Regions from separate parts of the Homo sapiens genome. Here region 1 is linked to region 2. The links come from fine-mapping of genetic effects on gene expression. A gene starts in region 2. The other region holds a variant in brackets. All regions are shown on one strand. Distances are from middle to middle.

Region 1 (10,108 bases), 790 kb after region 2:
AGGTATTAAGCCCAGCATCCATTAGCTATTCTTCCTGATGCTCTCTCCTCCCACCCCTTACCCTCTGAGAGGCCTCAGTGTGTGTTGTTCCTCCCCATGTGTCCATGTGTTGTTATCATTCAGCTCCCACTTATAAGTGAGAACATGTGGTATTTGATTTTCTGTTCCTGTATTAGTTTGCTGAGGATAATGGCTTCCAGCCATATCCCTGCAGAGGACATGATCTCATTTCTTTTTTATGGCTGCATAGTATTCCATGGTGTATATGTGCCACATTTTCTTTGTTTAGTCTATTATTGATGAGCATGTGGGTTGATTCCATATATTTGCATTGTGAATAGTGCTGCAATGAGCACATGCATGCATTTATCTTTATAATAGAATGATTTATATTCCTTTGGGTATATATCCAGTATTGGGATTGCTGGATCAAATGTTATTTCTGCTTCTAGATCTTCCACAATAACTTACATTCCCACCAACAGTGAAAAAGTGTTCCTTTTTCTCCACAGCCTCACCAGCATCTGCGCTTTCTTGACTTTTTAATAATCACCATTCTGACTGGCATGAGATGGTATCTCATTGTGGGTTTGATTTGCATTTCTCTAATCATCAGTGATGTTGAGCTTTTTAAAATATATTTGTTGGCCACATGAATGTCATCTCTTGAGAAGTGTCTGTTCATGTCCTTTGCCCACTTTTTAATGGGGTTGTTTGTTTTTTTCTTGTAAATTTGAAAACAGGTCTTTTGAAATATTCCAGTCAGACAAAAATAAGGAAAAAACTAAATAAAAGAATTAAAAAAGGCTTTGAGACATCTGGGACTACACAAAGTGACCAAACTTATGTATTATCATTATTCCCAAGGGAGCAGAGAGATCAAATTTAGAAAACCTACTTTAGAAAATAATCAGTGAAAAATTTCCAAGTCTATCAAGAAAGTTGACATCCAAATAGAGAAGGTCCAGCCATCCCTAGGCAAATACATTACAAAAAGGACTTCCCATAGCATATTATATTAAGAATGTCTAAAGTCAAAGTGAAACAAAGAATTTTTAAACTGACTAGAGAAGAGCACCTAGTCATCTATTAAAAAAAAAAAAAAAACAACTCTCATCAGACTAACAGTGGACTTTTCTGAAGAAACCTTACAGGCCAGAAAAACATTAAGTGGCATTTCAAAGTCATTTTAAAAAACTGCCAAAAGAAATCCCAGGACCAGATAAATTTGCAGCCAAATTCTACCAAACATACAAAGAAAAACAAAGATGAATTCTCCCAAAACTATGCCAAAAAATTGAAGAGAAGGGAATTCTCCCTCACTCATTCCATAAGGCCAGGATCACCCTGATACCAAAAGCAGACAAGGACACAACAAAAAAAGAAAAGTACAGACCCATATCCCTGATTAATATAGATTCAAAAATCTTCAACAAAATACAAGCAAGTTGAATACAACGGCATATCAAAAAGATAATACACCATGATCAAGAGTGATTTATACCAGGAATGCAAAGATGGTTCAACATTCCCAAATCAATAAATGTGATACATTACATAAACAGAATTAAGAACAACAACCATATGATCATCTCTATTAAAGTGGAAAAAGCAATTGATAAAATTCAATGCCCTTTCATCATAAAAATCCTCAACAAACTAGGCATAGAACAAAACATACTTCAACATAATAAAGGCAACATATGACAAACCTATAGCCAACAACATACTTAACAGGAAAAGTTTGAAAGCATTCCCTCTAAGAACTGGAATGAGACAAGTATGCCTACTTTCACTACTTTTATTTAACATAGCACTGGAAGTCCTCACCAGCACAATCAAGCAAGAGCAAAAAAATAAAGGGCATCCAAATTAGAAAAGAGGAAGTTAAATTGTCCCTGTTTGCTAATGATATTATCTTATATCCAGAAAACCCTACAGAGTCCACCAAAAAACTCTTAGATTTGATAAATGAATTCAGTAGTTTCAGGATAAAAAATTAACATACAAAAATCAGTACTGTTTCTATACAGCAATAATAATCTAGCTGAGGACCAAATCAAGAAGGCAATTCCACTTACAATGCTATAAAAAATAAAATAAAATACCAGGCATATATTTAATCAAGGAGGTAAAAAATCCCTATAAGGAAACAACAAATTACTGTTATAAAAAGTCATAGATGACACAAACAGAAAAACATACCATGCTTCCAACCCTTGGTCATGATTTGGAAAAATCAATATTGTTAAAATGACATACTGCCTGTATTAGTCTTTTTTCACACTGCTGATAAAGACATACCCGAAACTGGGCAATTTACAAAAGAAAGAGGTTTATTAGACTTACCGTTCCACATGGCTGGGGAGGCCTCACAATCATGGCAGAAGGCAAGGAGGAGCAAGTCACATCTTATGTGGATGGCAGCAGGCAAAAAAAAAAGAGAGAGCCTGTGCAGAGAAACTCCCGTTTTTAAAACCATCAGGTCTCATAAGACCATTCACTATCATGAGAACAGCACAGGAAAAACCCACCCCATGATTTAATCAACTCCCACCTGGTCCCTCCCACAACATGTGGGGATTATGGAATCTCCAAGATGAGACTTGGGTGGGGACACAGAGCCAAACCATACTATTCCATCCCTGCCCCTTCCCAAATCTCATATCTTCATATTTCAAAACCAATCATGCCTTCCCAACAGTCCCCCAAGTCTCAACTCATTTCAGCATTAACTCAAAAGTCCACAGTCCAAAGTCTCATTAGACAAGACAAATCCTGTCCACCTATGAGTCTGTAAAATGTAAAGCAAGCTAGTTACTTCCTAGATACAATACGGGTACACACATTGGGTAAATACAGCCATTCCAAATGGGAGAAATTGGCCAAAACTAAGGGGCTACAGGGCCCATGCAAGTTTGAAATCCAGTGGGGCAGTCAAATCTTAAAGCTCCAAAGTGATCTCCCTTGATTCCGTGCCTCACATCCAGGTCATGCTGATGCAAGAGGTAGGTTCCCCTAGTCTTGGGCAGTTTCACCCCTGTGGCTTTGCAGGGTACAGCCTCTCTCCCAGTTGCCTTCACGGGATGGCGTTGAGTGTCTGTGGCTTTTCCAGGTACATGGCGCAAGCTGTCAGTGGATCTACGATTCTGGGGTCTGGAGGACAGTGGCCCTCTTCTCACGGCTCCCTAGGCAGTGCCCCAGGAGGGACTCTGTATGGGGGCTCCCACCCCACGTTTTCCTTCTGCACTGCCCTACCAGAGTTTCTTCATGAGGACCCCACCCCAGGAGCAAACTTCTGCCTGGGCATCCAGGAGTTTCCATACATTTTCTGAAATCTAGGTGGAAGTTCCCAAACCCCAATTCTTGACTTCTGTGCATTCACAGGCTTAACATCATGTGGAAGCTGCCAAGGCTTGAGGCTTGCACCCTCTGAAGCTACAGCCTGAGCTCTATATTTGTCCCTTTCAGCCATGGCTGGAGTAGCTAGGATATAGGGCACCAAGTCCCTAGGCTGCACACAGTGCAGGGACCCTGGGCTTGGCCCAAGAAACCACATTTTCCTCCTAGGCCTCCAGGCCTTTGATGGGAAGGGCTGCCATGAAGACATCTGACATGCCCTGGAGACATTTTCCCCATTGTCTTGGGAATTAACATTCAGTTCCTTGTTACTTATACAAATTTCTGCAACTGGCTTGGATTCCTCCTCAGAAATGGGATTTTCTTTTCTATCTCATTGTCAGGTTGCAAATTTTCCAAACTTCTATGCTCTGCTTCCTTTATAAAACTGAATGCCTTTAACAGCACCCAAGTCACCCTTTGAATGCTTTGCTGCTTAGAAATTTCTTCTGCCAGATACTCTAAACCATCTCTCTCAAGTTCCAAGTTCCACAAATCTCTAGGACAGGGACAAAATGCCACCAGTCTGTTTCCTAAAACATAACAAGAGTTACCTTTGCTCCAGTTCCCAACAAGTTCCTCATCTCCATCTGAGACTACCTCAGCCTGGACCTTATTGTTCATATCACTATCAGAATTTTTGTCAAAGCCATTCAACCTGTCTTAGGAAGTTCCAAACTTTCCCACATTTTTCTGCCTCCTTTTGAGCCCTCCAATCTGTTCTAACCTCTGCCTATTACCCAGCTGCAAAGCCATTTCCACATTTTCAGGTATCTTTTCAGCAGCACTCCACTGCCAGTACCAATTTACTATATTAGTCCATTTTCACGCTGCTGATAAAAACATACCCAAGACTCGGCAATTTACAAAAGAAAGAGGTTAATTGGACTTACAGTTCCACATGGCTGAGGAGGCCTCACAATTATGGCGGAAGGCAAGGAGGAGCAAGTCACATTTTACGTGGAGGGCAGCAGGCAAAAAAGAGAACTTGTGCAGAGAAACTCCTGTTTTTAAAACCATCAGATTTCATGAGACCCATTCACCATCGCAAGAACAGCATGGGAAAGACCCACCCCCATGATTCAATCATCTCCCACCTGGTCCCTCCCACAACATGTGGGAATTATGAGACCTCCAAGATGAAATTTGGGTGGGGGCACAGAGCCAAACCATATCATCGCCCAAGGTTATTTATAGATTCAATGAAATCTCTATCAAATTACCAACATTATTTTTCACAGAATTAGAAAAAACAATCCTAAAATTCACATGAAACCAAAAAAGTGCCCAAATAGCCAAATCCTAAGCAAAAAGAACAAAGCTGGAAAAATCATAGTACCTGACTTCAAATAATACTACACAGCCATAATAACAAAAACAGCATGGTACTGGTCTAAAAATAGACACATAGGTCAATGAAACAGAATAGAGAACCCAGAAATAAATCAATGAGCCTACAACCAACTTATCTTCTACAAAGTAATATATATATATATATACACATACTCAGGAAAGGAAACCCTTTTCAATATATGATGCTGGGAAAATTGGATAGTCATATGCAGAAGAATAAAACTGGACTCATACTTCTTACCATATACAAAAATTAATTCAAGATAAATTAAGGAACTAAATGTATCACCTGTAAGTATAAAAATCCTACAGGAAAACCTAGGAAAAACTTTTCTGGACATTGGCCTATTCAAAGAATTTGTTATCAAGTCTTCAAAATCCAAAGTAAAAAACAAAAATTGACAAATGAGACTTAATTAAACCAAAAATCTTCTGCACAGCAAAAGAAACTATCAACAGAATAAACACAAAACCTACAGAATTGGAAAACATATTTGCAAACTATGCATCCAACAAGGGCTAATATCCAGAATCTATGAGAAACTCAAACAGCTCAACAAGAAAAAAACCAAATAACTTTACTAAAAAGTGAGCAAAGGACATGAACAAATATTTTTCAAAAGAAGACATACAAGTTGCCAACAGACATATGAAAAAGTGCTTAAAATCACTAATCAGAGAAATGCAAATAAAAACCACAATGAATTACCATCTCATACCAGTCAGAATGACTATTAAAAAAAGTCAAAAAAAAAAAAAAA[C/AC]CCAAAACAGATGTTGGCAAGGTTGTAGAAAAAAAAAAGGGAATGCTTATACACTGTTGGTGGGACTATAAGGTAGTAAAACCTTTATGGGAAACAGTATGAAGAATTCTCAAAGAACTGAAAATGGAATCACAATTCAATCCAGCAATCCCATTACTGGGTATATATCCAATGGAAAGAACTCATTATATCAAAAAGATACCTGCACTTCTTTCAGAATGATTCACAATCGCAAAGATACAGAATCATCCTAAGTGTCTATCAATGGAGGACTGAATAAAGAAAATGTGGTGTATGTGTGTGTGTGTGTGTGTGTGTGTATATATATATATATATATATATATATATATGAACACTACTCAGCCATAAAAAAGAAGGAAATCATGTCTTTTTTGGCAACATGGATGCAACTAGAGGCCAGAATCCTAACTGAAATAACTCAAAAACAGAAAGTTAAATACCACATGTTCTCACTTATAAGTGAGAGCGAAACAATGGGGACACATGGACATACAGAGTAAAATAACAGACATTGCAGACTACAAAAGGTGGGAGGCCGGGAGCAGGGATGAGGGCTGAAAAATTACCTATTGGGTAGAATGTTCACTGTCTGGGTGATGGGGACACTAAAAGCCCAGACTTCACCACTATGCAATATATGCATGTAAGAAATCTGCAGTTGTACCCTCTAAATTTATAAAAAATTTAAAATAAATAAATAAAACAAAAATAATTAAAAGAAATTTAAGACAAAAGAGATACATGATAAGGTCAAGGTTAAATACAGAGTTAGTAGTGAAACAAGGCCTAATGTCCTATTTCTCAATACAATACTTTTCTTGGTTTTTCCTTTCTTTCATGTCAGATGGGTAATGTGCTGACCTCATAATAAGGTTGAGGGTGGCACATTTCACACATGTGTGTGAACACCCAATCATCATGCTCATGAACTACAAAAGGGTCTACAACATTCTTTTTATCATATTACTTTGTTTTACACATTCTCAAACGAAGAGACAGTCTCCTTCATAGTCTGTCTAAATGCATTATTATTTAAAGAATCTGTATACCATCTGAAGCTGAATACCATCTGAAGCTGAATTCCAACTACACGGTCTCTGGAACAGAATGGCTTCTTTTATACAGGATGGCTGATCTCCAAACCCATATCTCAAAGCTATCAAGAGCAAAAAGAAACATCAATAGTCTGGAAACTATCCCACCTGGGCAAACACAAATTAAAGCCCCACAAGCAGGGGGGGTTCTCCTTGTCCCCAAGGGACTAGAAAGGAATTTCACTTTGCCTCATCCCTCTAGCTCTATTCCAACATTCTGGCACCTACAAACATTAAATATTTAATGAGCACCTATTATATGCTGGGCACTGTGCTACATGCTAGACAGTGAATAAGATATACAACCTCAATCCTCAAGGAGGTTGTCATCTGTGAGAGATGACAATTACAGGCAATTACAGTACAGTACATGAAGGGTTAAGAGTAAATCCATATTACCCTGAGACCACAGGCATCATCCCCTACTGACCAGGGAGAGAGGATTCAAATGGGAGGGGATTTGAGAGAAGGAGTGGGAGTTCAATATAACCAGTGAGTGGAGAATTAAGCTATTAAATCACTCAATTCACTCAACTGGGAAAGTATCTAAACGAAATAATTGTTTTGGATGTTTTAAGTGATACATGATTTACTTCCAGGCTTTGGTAAATGCTTCCATAAACCTCATAATCACACTATAACTTATCTGTTTTGTAAAGTCAGCTTTTTATACACTGAATTTACTTGAAAGAGACTTCTTGCTATACTTGTAAAAGACTACTGTATCACCTCCCTCTTCCCACTCTCTAATTAAGTTGTCAAAAAATGTTTTTCATTGTATTTGTTTTGGTTCTTAAAAAACCAATATGTAAGTCAAACAACATAGTTTACATATATTTCCATAACTGTCTTGCCATATTTTGTCACACCCACTAATCAGATATTTTCCACTCATCTCTCTGTTGTATGTGAAGCTGGCAGAAGACAATATTCTAAATTGCTTTCCAACCGCAGCACCTCAAGAGACTTAAAAACACATTAACCTCAGGCAAGATAACATGCTTTCATTTTGCAAGAAAATAAAACACTAATTATTGTCACAAAGCCTTCCTTAAAGGTCAAAAATAAATCCATAAGTGCAATAAAATTGAGGGAAAACTTAACCTAAACCTTAAAGGAATAAAGTCTTGATCTTGGAGTAAATATTTTTAAAACCTCACTATAATTTTACTTCTTGTGTGCCATAGTACCAAAACAAAGGAATTAATTGGGACACATTAATCTTGTGTTTGTTTGTTTTGTTTTGTTTCAGTCTCACAAGTATCCATGTAACTTACTTGTCTCACTTAAGTTACTTGTTCATATTTTGGGTCAATAGATATCTGCTTAGAAGAAAGCATGCACTTTGAACAGTGCTATTAATAATATCTCCACTGTATTGTTACATATTTTTTCTAGTGAACTGAAATCAACAGCAAAAATGCCCCATTTATTTCAGTAGGACTGAAGAAAATTTAAAAATTTATGTAGTAAAAACAATATGTGTGAGCCACCTGTTTGCTTTTTAACTAAATGGATTGGTATGGAATGACAGCTGCTGCAAAACCAACACACTTCAAATACTGTATATTACTTTGCCAAGAAGACTAAATTTTGGTATCATTTACTTTATTACCATGGGATGTGTTAATGGAGATTCTTACGGAAGAGCACTGTAATGAATATTTCTACCCACTAAGTGTCACTGTTCATTTAAATTTTTTTAAACTATGCTGATGGGCATGGTGACTCAGTAGAATCTTTTGAATGGGGTCAATCAGAAAAAAATAAAAATGATTCGATTACATAACACACTTAAAGCAAAGCACAGGCACTACATGAATGTAAACTGCTTAAGAGGAATTCCTAGAGATAGAGGTGTTGCTCTCAGTGGAATGCCAACTGATCAAATCAGACATTTTGCAAGCTTAAATAAGGTTTGAGTTACACTAAGCCTTGTAATCTGTTTTTACCAATATAAATGCCAAAACTGAATTGCCACTATAAAGTCTGCCAAGTTTCTTTGTATTGTATGTCAGTATGCTGTTTTCCTTCATAGTGCCATCAATAAACATGTCTGGGGATCAACTGCTTGTGATCAGATATGCTACTTTCATTGTTTCAAGCTGAGCTGATACTGCATGAAATACCAGTGCCAGAGAGGTTCCATTCAGGCTTGAACATTTGAGGGAGGAAGTAAGGCAGGCTTCCCTCTACCCTGCATACAAAAATTTAGGTAAATGTAAGAATATCCCTGGTGCTCACAAGATACAGACATCATTTCCTAGACACGCATAAATTTTAGACAACAGCATAATGCTCCACCCCTTGCAGGTTCTTGTTAAATAATTCAAGAGATACATACTCAGAGTTTTAGAGAGTAAGATTTTTAGCCATACTACTCACCATATGTAATGGTCTTGTTATCTCAAGATAGCAATATCATCACATATTTTTCTGGTTATGCCACTGCACTATTACAGGATAAAAATGTATATTGTTGCAAGAGTTCCACTTCAACTAAAGGACCCATTCCATTTTCTTCCCCGAAATAAAGAACGTACACCTAGAATTGCTCAAATCTCTATCTCTTCTTGCAAGACAGAGTGCATCCATTTTGAAATAACAGTTGTTGTAGCTTCTACTGTTCCCATCAAAGTGGGTGTGTTTGGGGGTCTTTTTGGTTTGGTTTGGTTTTTGTTCTGTTTGTCCAATCTGGAGCATTTTATCTCAGGCAATCTTTTATAATTACAATACAAGACAGCAAAATAAATGATGGTAAAAGTTAACATAAAAAATAAGTACTTTAAATATTCAGAGCTGAGAGAAGTAAGTTTGTACACGGCAGGAATGGGCAAGTAAAACTTTATAAAAACAGTATGTTCTTGAAAAGTACACCTTAATAAGTAGATAGAATTTCCTGAGACCTAAAAGTGGAGAAAGGGCATTCCATGTAGATGAAATAGTGTAGCAAACATGTTGAAGTAGCATATTTTAAAGACAGTGAGCAAGGATTTCACATTAGAAAGTAGTAGGTACAAGGATTAAAAGAACTTTTGGAACCAGGCCAGAATAAAAAATTAATATTAGTTTTAACTCATTCAAAAGAAGAGATGATGGGAACCATTAAAACTTTTTAAAACAAGAATGATTTTTTTAAAGTGTGTTCAAAAGATTAATCTCATAGGGGTGAATAGGAAAGTTTGAAAATAGCAAATGACAATTTTTAAATATTTTTAAAGATATATTGTGGACATATTTCAAGATTATTAAAAATGTTTAAATGTTTACACCCAGTAAATTCTGTTGAAGAAATAATCCACAAAAATTAAAATAAAGCAATTAAAAATTCACAAAAAGAAAATAATAGGTACACAAAAATTATAGCAACAATTATAAAGGAAGAAAACACCTCAATGTCCAAAATTGGGAAAAGTATGACACATATTCCTAATAGAATTTTAAGTGGACTATGTAAATTACATGGAAAAATTAAAAAGT
Region 2 (9,969 bases):
TTAGCTGCAAACAGGAGAAAATATTATTGAAGATGCTTAAACCAATAGGGGTTTATTGTTTCATACAATAGGTCTGAGGCTAGGCAGAACAGGGCTGTATGGCAACTTAGACATGTCATCAGTCTCTACATTTTTCCACATTCCCTATCTATAGGTCTTTATCTCAAGCCTGTTGTCTCAGGGTCACGAGATGGCTACTGCACCTCCATACCTCAAGTCCCCTTTCCAGGCAGGAAGAATGAAGGGGCAAAAACAGCCACAGCCAAGGCTTGCTCCCAGTAAGGCTTTTTTCATTTGGGGTAGAAAGATTTTCCAAAGATACTGCACCTACATGTCAATGGTCAGTCCTACGGCACATGGCTGCCTTTAATAGCTACAAAGGTATCTGGGATGGTGACTATTATAGTTCCCCAGCCTCTATTACATAATAAAAGGTAAAAGGGGGTTTTAAATGAAATTGGGGTAGCCAAAACAGAATGTCTGCCACGTATATTAATTCTGTGTATATTGTCTAATCCTAGAAAAGCACATTAGACCTAGTGAACACTCAAGGGAATGAATAAAATGTTATTAAAGTTCTATAAAATTCTACCTACATCAATAAATCTTTCTTGACCATTATAAAAGAAAAGAGATATGGACTACAGCTAAGACTCTAGAGTGAATTTCTGTTTCTGCCCATTAGTATGGTATTAGAACATCCATTCTGCCAGTTTCTTTGCCTTTTCCTAATCTGTTTTATCATCGAGCCTGTCCCAGAACCATCCACAATTTACAAATCTCCTCTTTGATACATTGCCCCAACTCCTTCAAGATGATTTTCATGTAGATCTCTTTTTCCAAATCCTCTCTGGCCCCCAGTCTCCATGCACCAATCCACTGTATTCCATAACCACAGAAGAGCTTTCAACTTTCCCCCCAAATTGTTAAACAAGTGAATGAAACATATCAAGAAAAAAAAACACACATCTTAAAAAGATGTTCCCAAATGTTTCATTAACACATGCAACTATCTTAGTTCATCACTCTTCTAAGAAGTTTTGTAGACAAAAACACAAATATAGCAGGTGCTGCAATACATGCTGAAGCAGCAGCAAAAAAAAAAAGACAAGCTCATTTATTTCAACAACAGGAGATAAACATCAATACACCCTCTTTTCAATCCTTTAATATATCTGGAATTCATGCTACTATATGGTACAGGCTGAAGATTTACATTTACTTTTAGATAAACTGTTAATTATTTCAGGATAGTTAATTCAGGAATCATTCTTTCCCCACTGATATGAAATGCTACCTCTACCATATACTGAATTCACAGGTAAGCTTCTGGGCTCTTCAGTATTATGTTTGTTTTTACATTAGGACCACACTATCACAATTATTAATAATACATTTATATGATATATTATAATTTAATATTTATTCTCAACAACATAGTATACAAGACAGACTTTAGAATCATTGCAGCAAGTGCCAAAAAGAAAAAAGAAAAAGAAACCTTTAGGAATTTGACTCATATAATATTATATTATTTATCAATTAATTTGGAAGACATTGGCATCTTATAATATTGTATTCCTTCCGATCTTGAATATTTACTCAATACTTCTGTCAAATACAACTAATAACTGATACAAAGGGGTATAATACATATCCTATTTGCTTAATTTTCCTTGAAATTTCACATGAAAAATATATATAAAATCACTTGGAAAAGAATAAACTGTGGTATGGTGTTACAGTTATGTAGGAGTAAAAGAAAAGCTTCCGTTGACCACAGTATTCACATATCATCAGTAACAATTCACCCACAGAATTCATGTACTTGAACTGGCAGTTTCACACGTCCCTATTGGTCATAATAAAGTCAGTCCTTTAAATAATCACTCAAATTTACTGGAAACAAATAACATCCTAAAACCATACCACATCGTAACATACTATTTCCTTTAATTTTTAATTAATAAATCCTGACATGATTATTTTGATAACCTGGAAAATTTACCAGCCATATCAAATCAAAATTACTATAAATGATATAACTTCACCTGTGAAAAAAATGTAATTTCTCAACCTGAATAAATTTACGAGACTCTGAAGTGATTTCCAATCATATTGTTTGACATACTTAGGTTTTAACTGAGTTTTTTTTAAAAAATGGGAGTGAGGCCCAAGTTAGAAATATTGTTCCTTATAATTTTTTAAAGTGCTTCCTACTTTCCTAAAATTTCCAATAGTCATTTTTGCATGCTATAAAAGAATGTGCAGGCTAAACCTACTTAGCTTTGTGTTATCTATCACTCAGGGAGAGTATGATGCTCCTAAATGTCAAACAGAGTGAAGGAAATAAAAAGATTTAAGTGACAGAAAAATTATAACTCATAAGAAGATATATCTAAGTTTTGGTGGGGTGTTTAGTGACTAGTAAGAGGAGCCCCTTGTAGAAGAATTTCAGTAACGCAAGCATACTAGGTAAGAAAGAATCAGATTTCCGCACTATGGAAAACAATGTTTCCTCTTTTAGTCAAATGAACAATGTATCAAGCATCACATCAACAGACTTTTAAAATGAAATAATTATGACTATGCTCATCTCTGATCTCAGGAAAAAAATTAGTCTAGATACATATAAAATATAAATTTCATATACATTTAAAATGATACTCTAAATAGCTGACATTTCTCTTAAACAATAATTTTAAAGACATATTTATGCAATAAATTTAGCATCTCACCTGTCCAGCAACAGCACTGAAGTAAGTATACACGGAGTCACCAGCTGAGGAATAAGTGTCTGAATATGCTGGCCCAGAGTATCCATCGAGGAGTATAGCTGGGCCTGTTTCTGGCACTGGCTGTCCCATCTGCATTCCTGGCACCTGAATGCTAAAATTTCCAAACTATAATAGTGAAAGGGGAGAAGGTTAGTAATATAAATACTACCTATTATCTATGAAAGTTGGATTAAAAGAAATTATTAGAAGTCCGTCAAAAAGTAAACAGTTACCAAAAGCTTATAATCTTATCACAAAAATTTTAACTACAAAATGTTAGATGTCCTACATTAAGACATAATTCAATTCATCAACATATATTACCCAGCATTAAAAGAAGTATAAAAGAAAAAAGAAAGTTACTAGCCTCTAAGAACTTAATCTAAGAGGAACATGTACAATTTTAAAAAATGTTTACCAACATCACTGAAGTAAACAAAAAGTAAAACAATGCAAGATTTTACCTAAAGTAAAACTAAGAAGTAAACCTCAAGACACATACTTAGAAGAATATATGTGTAAATACAATGAAACTTTAAGTGTCAACATTTACAATATGTTGGGTATTGTATTCTTTACAACTATTTAAACTTAAAATAAAAACTTTATATGTCAATATAAAATATGGGAAAAGGGTATATAGTTTTTCAAAAATCTTTTAAGGGGCGGGAAGCAAAATGTTTAAAGAAACTGCTGTGGTTCTGGTAGTATCCTGAGGGATGACATAGAGTTCTGTATGCTGGCCTCCCACTTGTTTCTTTTCAGCCTATTGTGACTTATTACAGTTTATATATGTGGGATTCTCTGATGTTACAGATTATGTGATCTAGTTTTAACTAAAGCCATAACAAAATGGCAATAGTAAAGATTCAAAAACATGCAAAGCAACATGAAAGGCTTGGACATGAAAATATTGTCTAAGCCTTTCCTTACCCACATTATGTAGTAATAATAATAATGATCAATTTTGACTCATTTGAAACTGTCAAGAGGACAACTTGAAATATAAATTTATGTAAACCGTGTTTAGGGATGAACCTTGTTGGCCAGGGGCCCCAGTTCTCCTCCACATGGGCCCTTTCACATGGCTCTTCCACTTTTTCATAGCTTGGCAGTCAGCTTCTAAGAGAGAGAAAGAGAAGCTGCCAGTCCTCTTAAAATATTGAGTCTGGAACTGCCATGGTGTCTTTTCTACTGTATTCTACCAGATGAAGGTGAAACAGGCCCAATCCAGATTGAAGAAAGTGGAGAAATAGTCTGTGCCTTTCGATAAGGGGAGTGGTAAAGAATTGGTAACCATCATTAATCTGACCACCAGGTTCTCAAATTATGGGACTGGGGAAAGCTAATGCTGCAAATTGGGAAGGGAAAACAGATTAAAAGTTATTCCTAAGGACAGATTCTTCATCTTTGAATTGATTTTGTATGCTATTTCTTGTGTGAAAATCTAATCTGTTTAAGTTTTCTGTGCTTAAAATGTTTTTTTATTATTGAAAACACTGAAGCTTGTATAATACAACATGTACAAACAAAAACATGTAACGAAGTTTTAGATTGTTTCATTTCCTGTGACCAAAGTGAGAAACAAAGAAAAAAGTCCTTTACATTGAGTTATAATTTTTATTCGTATACAATTAGTAAAAAAAAGAAAATAATACAATTTTTATAAACAATTCTTAAAAGAAGAAAGTAAAAATCTATTGGAAATGCATCTCCTACAGAGATAAATCATGCACTTAATTAGATAAAAGTATACTATCAAAACAATTAGGTCTAGCAGCTGACATTTTATATTTTGTTAAAAGAATATAAGAAACATTAATAAGGCATGGGTTTCCTTTAACAGGATTTATAAACGTCTCAACTATCTTATTAATATTCTCCTACTAAAGAAATCATGTAAGTTTTATCCCAAAATTTTATCCAATGTATCTTAAAATATTTCAATTACATTTTTTAAAATCAGTGCCTCTAATCTATATATTGCTTCAGCTATTGAGGGTACTTCTCTTTCCGGCGATTAATAATGAGCATGACAACAGCTGAAAAGAGTTGTTTATTTTAAATTCATGGAAAAGGGGATTTAAATATTCAAAACACATACAGACGTTCTCTTTATTGTGTCGTGGAACTCTCCATCAAATTCAAGCACTCTGACAAAAGTGGGTAAGGAAGCACCAAATTATTTGAATGAAAATGTATTACTCTTGCCACCTCACTCTACCATACATATATGAATTCAGAGCATACCAAGAGGAGTAAATATACAAACTTCTAACAGATAGCTTCAACCAAATGAAAATACGTATACGCTAGGGACGTTTTTAAAGACCCACAGGTTTATGCTATCTTGATTAATCTTCGAAGGGGCTTTACTTTCCTTAGGTACCTTAAACTTCCTTCCTAAATTTAAGGACTGAGGAGGCATAGGCATTACAAAGTGGACGGTGCCAGAGGGGATTGAGGCAAGTCTTAAGGAAAGCAAATCAATTTTAGGAACAAGTATGTGTGGAAGTTGAGGACCTGGAAATTCATATCCTAAAACAACAACAACAACCACAACCACAACCACCACCACCACCACCACCACCACCACCACCACCACCACCATGAACTCCAAGGGGTAGGAGTAACTCTTTTGAAGACCACAACCATAGCCCAAAGTCAAGTCCTATATTAAAATCAGTAAAACACAATTTCTCTTTTTAGGTAAAAAACAAATAGAAAATATATTATATTCTACCCACACCGCAATGGATCAAACTACTGTTAACTCTGTTAACACAGCGTGTAGATCACTGACATCGATACTAAAGGTTTGGGCTCCTTTCTGAAAAGAAGGGGCTAGCCACCAGGACTCTACGATTATAACTTGCAACTCCCAAAGGTGATGCAGGATAAAAGTTATAACAAAGAGTAACTTCCCCCCGCCTGGGGGCGAGCGGGGGAGTCTAGAACAGATTGCCCTTCGTATAACAGTAAAGATTAGGAGTTATTTACCGTACACCTTAATTTATTCATAAGGAACTTAAAGAACAAGAAGTGGTCAGGAAATTCAAAAAGAGGATCTCTAGCAACACTGAGTGGGGGGCGGGGGAGGGAAGTACCACAAACGATTACTGGAACAAGAAGAGGGTGGCTTGTTCCTCCATTCCAGGAAATAAATTTCCAAACACACATTACTCCCTCGGCTCCACCAGGACGCTCCTCGAGGGTCCTCAACGACCAGAAAACCTGCGGCTCCAAGTCAGCCCAGGATCAATGCTCGCCCAGGCCCTGGCCCCCAACAGCCCCGGAATCCGGCGCCGCCGAGTACCAGGCGCGGACGCAGGGAGCAGGAGCCAAGGGCGGACCCGCACGTTGGCACCGCCCCCGGGGGCGCCACACCCCGCGAGGAAGAGGGACACGACCAAGCGGCTGGGACTCACCCCTCCTCCGTATCCCGGGTAGGCCATGACGAGCGGGACGAGCGGAGCGAGCGTCACCCTCGAGTCGCGTCCGCAGTGCTGGGAGAAAAAGCACAGGCGCAGGTGCAAGGAGGCGCAGCTGCAGGTGAGGCTGAAAGGCGCACTAACCGCACAGTTCACTCCTCCGAACCCGCCCCCTTCCGCAGGCCAGCCCCGCCCTGCACGGTTCCGATTGGCTGAGTCCCACACTTTGGAGCCAACTCAGCTGCAGTCCGCCCCTTCCCGCAGCCTAGCCCCACCCATCTCTGCCCTGATTGGCTACACCCCATCGGGAGCCCTCCAGTCCCTGCTCGACTCTTACTGGCTCCCTCAGGTTCTCGCGCGCTCTCCTTCTAAATCCCGAAGAAGCCTTGGCTGCTGCAACGGAATTCCCACTCTCTGTGGAAAGGTCTTCTACAAGCCTTCAACTCCTCAAGTTACTTTTCTTTCTAGAAACCCCAAACCGGCAAGTCTGTGACTTATTTTAACCAGCCCTCCACGCTTTTGAGCTGGACTTCAAAGACCCATCTGTGAATTTCAAAATTTTGCAGTTACATTTACTTTTGTGTAGTGTTGATGTCACATCAAAACTTTGCAACCAGGACCACACCTGTGGTCCAGGAGGAGTGCTTCTGCGCCAAAACCCACTTGAGGCCACATTGGACGAACAGGTTATTGATTCTGTTTGGTAGATAAATGGTGACCTGAATTGTGGCATGTTGGCAAATAAACAGGATATCTAGTTAAAGTTGATTTCCAAATAAACTTTTTTAGTGTAAGTATGTCCCAAATATTGCACAGGACGTGAACATACACTAAAAACTTATTTGCTGTTTATACACTGATAATATAGACGGTGTCCTGTATATAATCTGACTCAGCCTTTGGGCAAACTCTTGTTAAATGTTCAATTACTTTGGCTTATTAAGTAATAGCAATGGACAAGTCTGATTTATCTCTGGAACTCAAATGAATTTTGTAGCTCTGACTTTAAAAGGACAAGGCAGCTGTAGCTTTGGCTTATGAACAAATGAAAAAACCAAATGATATTATTTTGAGTTATCTCTGAAGAACAAGAGAAGGGCTAACATGTTTCTTAAAAATAAGGCTATCAAAAAAATGTTAACTATTCACAAAGGAAATCAGCCTTGCAGAGCTGAGTATCTGTTGTTCAGCTATGCTACAGAAGAGGATGTTGGACCTTGTGAAACAATTCTCAGAGGAAACAGCAGAGAGAAAGGAAGATTGCCGATGTCCTAGCTACTCTTGGGAAAGTGTCTGTAAGTTCCTTCAATGCTGTAAGAAATACTTAAGCCACTAAGGTTAAATTATTGGCATAAATAAATAGAGGGGAAGGGTAAAACCTACGTGGCAAAAGGGAAAAATGCATGGCTTATGAAGGTATCAAATGATAAAGCGCTAGAAAGAACAAACCATTGCAAAATTTTATTCCAACGGATTAACTACATATTCAAAGAACTGCTTAGGAAGGATTGAGTGTTTACATTTACAATGTTAGTCTGATTCTGTGGTCAAAATTTTTGTGCATCTTGTTTTCATCAAAATAGCCTTATTGATGCAGCTGCATTTGTGCAGTTGGGAGTTAAGGCCCCATGGGTTTCTTGCCTTTCTGCACATTTAATTGCAAAGATAGTATTTCCTGCCAGGGCAAAGTTTGGGTACGTTTGCTAGCAGCCTTCTTAGGACTTTCCTAAGCTTGGAGTTCTTCCAGTTGCATAACAAACACAGTGCATGTACAACACCCATCTGGCAGCTCCTCTTCGCCTTGTGGGACTTCAGAACGAGGGGAATCTATGGAAGTATGAAGCTCATGGTGCCTGTTGTGCTTTGAGTAATAAAGTTATTTGTCTCAGACTCAGGAATCTCACACATTCTGCCAACTTCCATGAAACTGTGGCACTCTACTTGTTTGCTTATAACTAGGGTAAAATATCAGATCCTTCATAGTTCCTGCCAATATATCTCTTAACTTAGAGAAAGGGCTACCAAAGAAAGTTCCTACCATGAAGATGCAGAGGAGGACTTTGAACAACACAGCATCTCTCTCTCTAAAACTAGTGTTTCAAATTTTAAATATTCTAGTATAAAAATTCAAATAAGGCCATAGAGTTTTTTTTAAATAACAGTAATGTTAATTTGCCTCCATGAGTCAAGTTAATACTGTATGAACAATAGCATTTTATGAAAATGTCATGTCTATTTAAAAAATTTGCTTTTTAAATATTTTTCTTTTAATAAAATCCTTCTTTACTTTATAAAAATAGTTATAGAGTGAATACGACGTACTAGGCATTGTGTGTTGTGAAGTGTTATTTCTCAAAACAACTCCATCAGGTATATGTTATTATTCCCACTTTACAAATGTGAAAAGTAAGGTGGATAATTGTATTTCACTACCCACAAATGCAGTTGCATAGTGACTAGCAAATCTGAGAGTATGGCTGCAGAATGTGGTTTCTTAAACATTGTATGTCCCCTTTTCTCTCCATCCCCAACCATAGTGCTGTATTTCAGAATATAATAAAATTGTTTACACCATAAAAGAAAAAAGGCTTTAAAAGTTTTTAAATGGCAGTAGAAAATATAACTAGAGAAATAGCCAAGGAAACACATTGTTTTGACCAAGATTAGCCAATTTAATTACTTCTCTTACACAGGGTACATCCTTTCTGGTGACTATAAAGCTTACAGGATTATGTCTAACTATGGAATTTCTTCTGAATCTTGGTGGCATTGGTCTTATCATAAGTTTAGATATTCAATTAACCAGCACATTTACCAGTAAAATGTAAACAATAAATTAACTGCAGTTCTTTTTCCTATCTGTTGCCACCTCATTTTCTCTTTCCCACTATATGAATGAGGGAGAGAAAAGAGTCACAGCTCCTCAGCAAATTTCAATCACAAACCCAGAGCCTACTTGCCTCATATAAATCATATATATATATATATATATATATATATATATAAAATAAATAAGACATACCAGCTAATGGAAACCAACATTAATGGAGTTTATTTTATATCACTAAGAAATTTCATTTAGATAGAACAATTCATTTACTCAATAATTATTTATTGAGCATGTATAATGTAACACTATTTTAGATGTGGAAAACATACATCAATAGGAGGGGAGGAATGTCCTTGCTTTTTTGGAGCTTACATTCTAGCAGGGAGAACAGACAATAGTAAGTAAAAATGATGAGTAAGTAAATTATAAACCATGTGAGAAGATGATAAATGCTATTGAAAAATAAGGAAACCTAAGTCAAGGTTAAGGGGTAGGGAGATGACAGAGTAGGTTGTAGCTCTAAATGGAGTACTTGGGTAGCTTTATTGAAAAGGCAAGATTTGAGCAAAAACTTAGAGGTCATGAATGAGTTAGACATTCTGGAGGTATCTGTAGGAAGACATTTCCATGAAGAACTAGAGTTAAGGTCCTAAAGCAAAACCCTGCCTGACCTATTTGAAGAATAACAAGGAGGCCAGTGAGCCTGGAATAGATTGAGCAAGAGGGAGAGTAGTGGAAGTGGTTGCAGAAGCGGGGACATTGGAGCAGATCATGCAGGGCTTCACAGACCATTTTAAGTACTTGCTTTTATACTCTGGTTGTGATACGGAGCCACCGAAGAGTTTGAAATCTAAGTGGGACATGATACGATTTAGGAAGGCTCACTCTTTCAGCTGTTGACAACAGACAGAAGGAGGTTAGTGTAGAAACA

What was found. PIP is the estimated chance that this variant, and not a neighbour inherited with it, causes the effect.
Region 1: its variant is fine-mapped to the expression of GCA in whole blood (INTERVAL, PIP above 0.99).

The regions. Positions count from the first base shown.
Region 1 is chr2:161,554,911-161,565,018 of GRCh38, reverse strand. LOC124906148 (small nucleolar RNA U13) reads right to left here and starts at 6,475; the gene lies at 6,373-6,475. The variant C/AC (reference allele first, on the strand shown) is at 5,514.
Region 2 is chr2:162,340,512-162,350,480 of GRCh38, reverse strand. It overlaps GCA (grancalcin), which reads right to left and starts at 6,349. Exons shown (of 8, transcript NM_012198.5): 1 at 6,206-6,349; 2 at 2,739-2,903. The coding sequence starts at 6,232. RefSeq lists silencers at 6,043-6,122, 6,363-6,512 and enhancers at 6,541-6,710, 6,563-6,792.